Linked DNA regions of Homo sapiens: region 1 is linked to region 2. Evidence: fine-mapped expression QTL. A gene starts in region 2. The other region holds a variant in brackets. All regions are shown on one strand. Distances are from middle to middle. Region 1 overlaps WDR64 (WD repeat domain 64). Region 2 holds the start of WDR64 (WD repeat domain 64).

What was found.
Region 1: its variant is fine-mapped to the expression of WDR64 in gastroesophageal junction (GTEx, PIP 0.97).

The regions. Positions count from the first base shown.
Region 1 is chr1:241,750,294-241,753,217 of GRCh38, forward strand. All of the region lies in intron 14 of WDR64 (WD repeat domain 64), which reads left to right. Among named protein-coding and RNA genes, the nearest start is that of EXO1, 96 kb to the right of the region's middle. The variant C/T (reference allele first, on the strand shown) is at 1,360.
Region 2 is chr1:241,650,585-241,653,508 of GRCh38, forward strand. It overlaps WDR64 (WD repeat domain 64), which reads left to right and starts at 1,697. Exons shown (of 28, transcript NM_001367482.1): 1 at 1,697-2,045. The coding sequence starts at 1,901.

The DNA of each region.
Region 1 (2,924 bases), 100 kb after region 2:
TGGCTATTGAGCGGATCTCACCCCATCACCTCGAACTCAAGAACTCATTGCCTTTACCCTTTTGAAAGCTAAGATCAGAAAAGAAAAGTCTTGTATAGCACAGCAATCATGAAGCACCAGCTTAAGATAACTGATGACCTAAGAATGGGGAAAAAGGAGTGAAAAACCTGCCTGATGTAATATACTCTTCTCTTGTCTGAGTAATCCAAAATGGCACTGTAGAAAGGAATTTCTTAGTAATAATACACTCTACAATGAACGAAATGTTGACTTTTGCTTTACAAAGTGCCATTGTTCATCAGGATGCCCTTCCTACCAGACAATGTCTGTTGTCACAAATGCTCCTTTTTTAAGGGCTGCAAAAAGTAGCATGGAACTATTCACTCACCAAAATTGTTTTTAGTTCTACTGTAGCATTTTTCACATTGATTATTCTGGTTCTGCATTTAGAACCTGCAGATTGATCTTGGTAGGAACTGAAAACCTCTCTTATTTATATTTGTATTCTTGGCCATGCCCAGAGTAGGTGCTCATTAAGGATTAAAATAATTTTAAAAATAAATAGAGAAAGAACCTCTTCTAAAGTAGACAATAGTACATTTATGAGGGGTATTTGGAGAACTTTTATTAATGTTGGAGCGGGCAGCTTTATAATATAATGTTGAAAGTATCCTTATTTACTTATTATTATTAGTGTATTACTATTATTTACTTTATTATTATATCTGCCTATTTGAAATAAAATAATTTGATTTACATACTTATTTTCTAGAATACTTTCATTCATTCATTTTTTTCAATGACCAGTTACCAAATATTTGCCATGTTCCAGAAGGATATTCCCTTTCACCATGAAATGCATAATTTAATAAGGGGGCAGTGATCCACCTACTACAAGTGTTGTGAGTGCTTTCACAAAGTGTCTCAGAAGCTTGTATGGTGGGATGGTTGTCAGACTAATCTGGTAGCCAGGCCATTTTTTTTCCAACTAAAAAGGGAACAAGCTTTATAATAAATTTCTTTCCCTAAATTCCAAACCCCATTTCTCTGTTTGCCCAGAAACTGGAAGGTGGGCAGGTGGAAGTTGGAGCTGAGAGTGGAATGGAGGAAAGATAAACCCAACCTCTATCTCTCTATCTTCCTAGATTCCCAGCTGCCTTAAAAACAAAAACAAAAACAAAAAAACAAACACCCCCATCCCGGCTCCACAAAACCAAAAAGCCAAAACCTGCTTCAGTGATCACATTCAGTTATTCAGGAAACATCGCTGATGCATTATGAGCTGAGAAGGGTCTCCAAAGTATCATGTACTTTTAAATGTGTTCAGACAGTCCTTAACGGCTTAAATATAATATCTCT[C/T]TTATGCTTCTGTTCTTGGTTTTATTTTCTCAAGTCTCAGAAAAACCCTTGTGCAACTGCCCGCTCTGGGCACAAATCATCACTGTGCTGAATATTCTGGGCATGATTTCCTAGCCACGTAACAAGAGGGCAGACCGTAAATTGACTGGTCTATTAATACAACTTCATAGAAAACAAGAGAAGAAAACAACAATTCTTCTCATAATCTCAGTTTTAAGGGGATAGAATTGCATTCTGCCTATATGAAACCTTTGGCAAATTTGAGAAAAATTTGCCCCCAAGCCATTGTTGACAAAACCATAGGTTGGTGAGAGATTACTGTTCTAACATGATAAACAAAGCACTATGGGGGTTCCAGGAAGATGATTAATTGACCCCAAAATCATTCAAATTCTAAAGACCCACTTACTTCCCTTCCTTTTAACCACAGTGCTTTATGAATCTACTCATATAGCTGTATTTCTGTGTCCTTTAAAGTAAATGATCTTTCTTTATGAAGCAATTAACATAATAATGCTCTTAGCATTATATGAACTGCTGTTTTCCTAATCAATTCCTAAAGACCTACCAGCCAATTCCAATATAACATAAAAGATTTCACCAATTAGAGATGAAATGTAGAAAATAAGGGTAACTTTTCACAAAGCTACTTTTACTTCATTTAAATTTTAAGATTATATCTTTCCTACTGTTTTATATTACTATAGCCTTTCTTTTCATAAAATAATGGTAGTAGAGTTTCCCATCTCCTTCTCCCTCATGTCCTCACTTGGTAAAATTGAATGTTGGTAACTCTAGGTCAATCTTCAAAAGGTGTTTTGTAAATTCTGCTGCTCTGTGAATTCAGAAAGTCTGAGAGCCACTGTCATAGGAGGTTCCATTGAAACCGGTTAAACCTATTAAAAACCACTGTTGGGCTGGATATAGTGGCTCATGCCTGTGATCTCAGCACTTTGGGAGGCCAAGGCAGGAGGATAGCTTGAGGTTAGGAGTTTGAGACCAGCCTGGGCAACATAGTGAGACACCATCTCTACCAAAAAATGTAAAAATTAGCCAGGCATGGTGTCACACACCTGTAGTCTCAGCTACTTGGGGAGCTGAGGTGGGAGAATTGCTTGATCCTGGGAAGTCAAGGCTGCAGTGAGCCAAAATTGCACCACTGCACTCCAGCCTGGGCGACAGAGCAAGACTCTGTCTCAAAAAGACACACACACAAAAAACAAACCACTGTCAATAACTCATACCACCAGGTGGGCACATAAATCTAACTAAGCTATTACTCAGTGTCAATATCTGGTCACTCTTGAGATATTGCTGAGATTCATTCCTTCTATCCCACAATGGCACAAACTGTAAACAAAGAATCCACCAGTACGTAGGAGTACTATGGGCCCATACTTTTAAATTAACATGGATATGAAGTAACAGAGGCCTTAGGGCAACACCTAAAATCAAAGCTTTAAAAAATGGAAGGACTTTTATCCATCAACTAGCTAAAGCCCTCATTTTGCAAATAAGAAAAATAGGGCCAAAGAAGGTATGTACCTTGCCCGAGGTCCCACAAG
Region 2 (2,924 bases):
CAGTCACACTGGCCTCTGTCGTTTCTCAGATATGTGAAGCACACACCAATCTCAGGACTTTACGCCTGCTGTCCCTAGAACATCCTTCTACCATTTATCCACATGACTTGCTACCTCACTTCTTTCAGGTTTCTGCCCAGAAATCTTTCTATTAATGGGGAATTCCCTGATCTCCCTACCTCTTTTACTTTGATTTTTACCCCCACCCTAATACACACAAAATTCCTCTCTCTTCGTAGCACAATTGCTCACTGATACATTATTTATTTGTTTGTCTGTCTTCTGCATTAGTCTATAAACTTGAGAAGCTATTTTATTCACTGCTGTATCCTTAGTGTCTAAAACAGCCTCTAGCATGAAGTGTGTATTCAGTAAATATTTCCTAGATGAATTAATGGTGAATGCATTAGAATTGTAGGAAGAGTGGTTCTCCAGACATCACTGTACAGTGGTTTGAAAGCTTTAAAGGAAAAAGGAGGAGAAACAAATGGGGTTGGGGGATTTTTCTTTAAATAAAATCTTACTGCGCTCTCCTAACAGATAGTTAGAGGTGGACACCAAGAAGACAGTACTGGAATTGGAGGTGCTCTGAAATGCCATCTGCTTCATCTCTGAATGCAAGTTCTTGAAGAATGTTTTAAAAGATGGACTACCAAGGGGTAGGAAATTTATCTAACTCACCTAAGCCATAGGAAGTTAACTAATTGTTGAGAAACATTAAACAACTTCTCCTTCCCATAAAAAGTTGAAAATTGGAAAACCGGAGTCAATAGCATTTGGACTAAGTCGGATTGGAGATTGCAATGACTGGGAAGGAGATGTGCAGAAAGGCCTCTTCTAATTCATCTGACCTCTTACCTTGAAAAGCTGTCCTCATAATCAGAAGCCACTCCTTCCTTATCCTTGGCTCACTTTATTATTTCAATCGAAGGACAATGCACAAAGGAAGAAGAGCATTTGTATTCCCTATGACCTCTAAAAATGTTTGTGGTAGAAATGACAGGTGCTGAAATACATTTCATCTTTAGAAGTTCGAATTTCCATATCCAGTACAGTGGCAAGAATAAGTGTGAATATTACTTTTTTTTTTTTTTGAGAGGAAGTCTCACTCTGTCACCCAGGTTGGAGTGCAGTGGTGTGATCTCAACTCACTGTAACCTCTGACTCCCAGGTTCAAGTGATTCTCTTGCCTCAGCCTCCTGAGTAGCTGAGATCACAGGTGCCCGCCACCACATCCAGCTAATTTTTGTATTTTTAGTAGAGACGGGGGTTTCACCATGTTGGCCAGGCTGGTCTTGAACTCCTGACCTCAGGTGGTCCACCCACCTCGGCCTCCCAAAGTGCTGGGATTACAAGAATGAGCCGCCGTGCCTGGCCAAACTTTACTTTCCGCGGTATTGTGAGGAAGGCAAAAGGTTTGAGGTGAGAAGAGATACACGAGGGAGAAAGTATTACCCAGTTTTCTTACTTGTTATTTACTCATTCCTTTTCCCTCTCAAGCAGTATACACAACACACACATGTGCACGCGCACACACACACACAGTCTGTGGGGAAAAAAATATCTCAATCTCCTCCTTATGAAGGAAGTAGGATGTTACAGAGATATTATGATGCAATGAGGACCCTATGAAGGACACTGATGACATTGTGAGGTCAGGATTTTTACTGAAATGTTTGTCTGTATGAAATGCATCAGACCTAAATCAGCTTTCCTCCCTGCTAACATCCTAGTGGCAACTCTTACTCCTACCCGCACTATGGGATTTTAAGATCAAAGGAATTAGACCTAGGGCAAAAACTGAGACAGCAGGGAGGCACTGTAACAACTGGAAAGTTTTCCAAATTGGTAAACTTGCAGTATTCTTTCTGTACAGAAGTAAAAGATCCCCTATGTCCCTATGGATATCAGGAAGGAAAAGCGTCTCAACATGGCACTTCAGATGAGCAATTTCAAAAAGGCTTTGAACAGGTTTGAAAAATTGGTTGAACAAACAGCAGCCCAGAAAAGAGATGAAAGAGCAGGCTTATTTATCCATAAAGAAGGTAAGATCAGTGATTACACGATAGTCCAATTGGGTCTGTTGGTTAGAACTGGAAAATGTTTTAAGCCATCAGAGAGAAGCATCAGAGCTTAATGTGAAAGAATGGGTGCTGAAAGGGGATGAAGACCTCAGTTCTTGTTCTTTCTCTGTCCCTAAATAACAAAGCGGACATGAGGAAGCTTTTGTTTTGTTTTGTTTTTGTTTTTGTTTTTTTTTTTTACTTCTCTGAACCGAAGTTGCTTCAATTGTAAAACTATGGGATTGGATTAAATGACGTCCAGTGTTCTTCTGTAGACGCTGCCATTTGATGGCTCACTGGTTGACCTGGGATGCTCAGTAATGTATAGCACTGCTTTTTCTTAGCCTAAAGATATCATGAGACCATAAAGACTTTCATAAGAAGTGCAGCTTCCTGCCTCACCATGATTCCATTGTCTTGGCCACTCTCCATATCTCTAGGCAGGAATGATCTTGAGGATGCAAGCTAAGGAGAATATGGTGGACAGTGGTCTTACAGGAGGATTTGCAGCAGAGATGCCAGTGCATAGACAAGATTCAAGGGGAGTGGTGTAGTGTACAGCTTTGGCGTATTGAGGACAGCTGTGAAAAATAAAGCTACATGGCAGAGTGAAAGACTAACAGAACAAACCCTGCTGTTGCAATGAAAGGAGCAGAGCCCATATAATTGCTAAAGGGATAGTATAGCCAGCCTCTGAGTGTGCCAGGCTGCATAGTAATTTGTAAGTGAAAATCTTGACTTTGGGTGTTCAAACCCAAGCTGGTATTAATTGAATAGTATTTAATAATTTATAGTCATGTTAATCAATGTCATTATGTTCATTTTATTTGTGGAAAAAATGGGAGCTGAAGATAAATCATT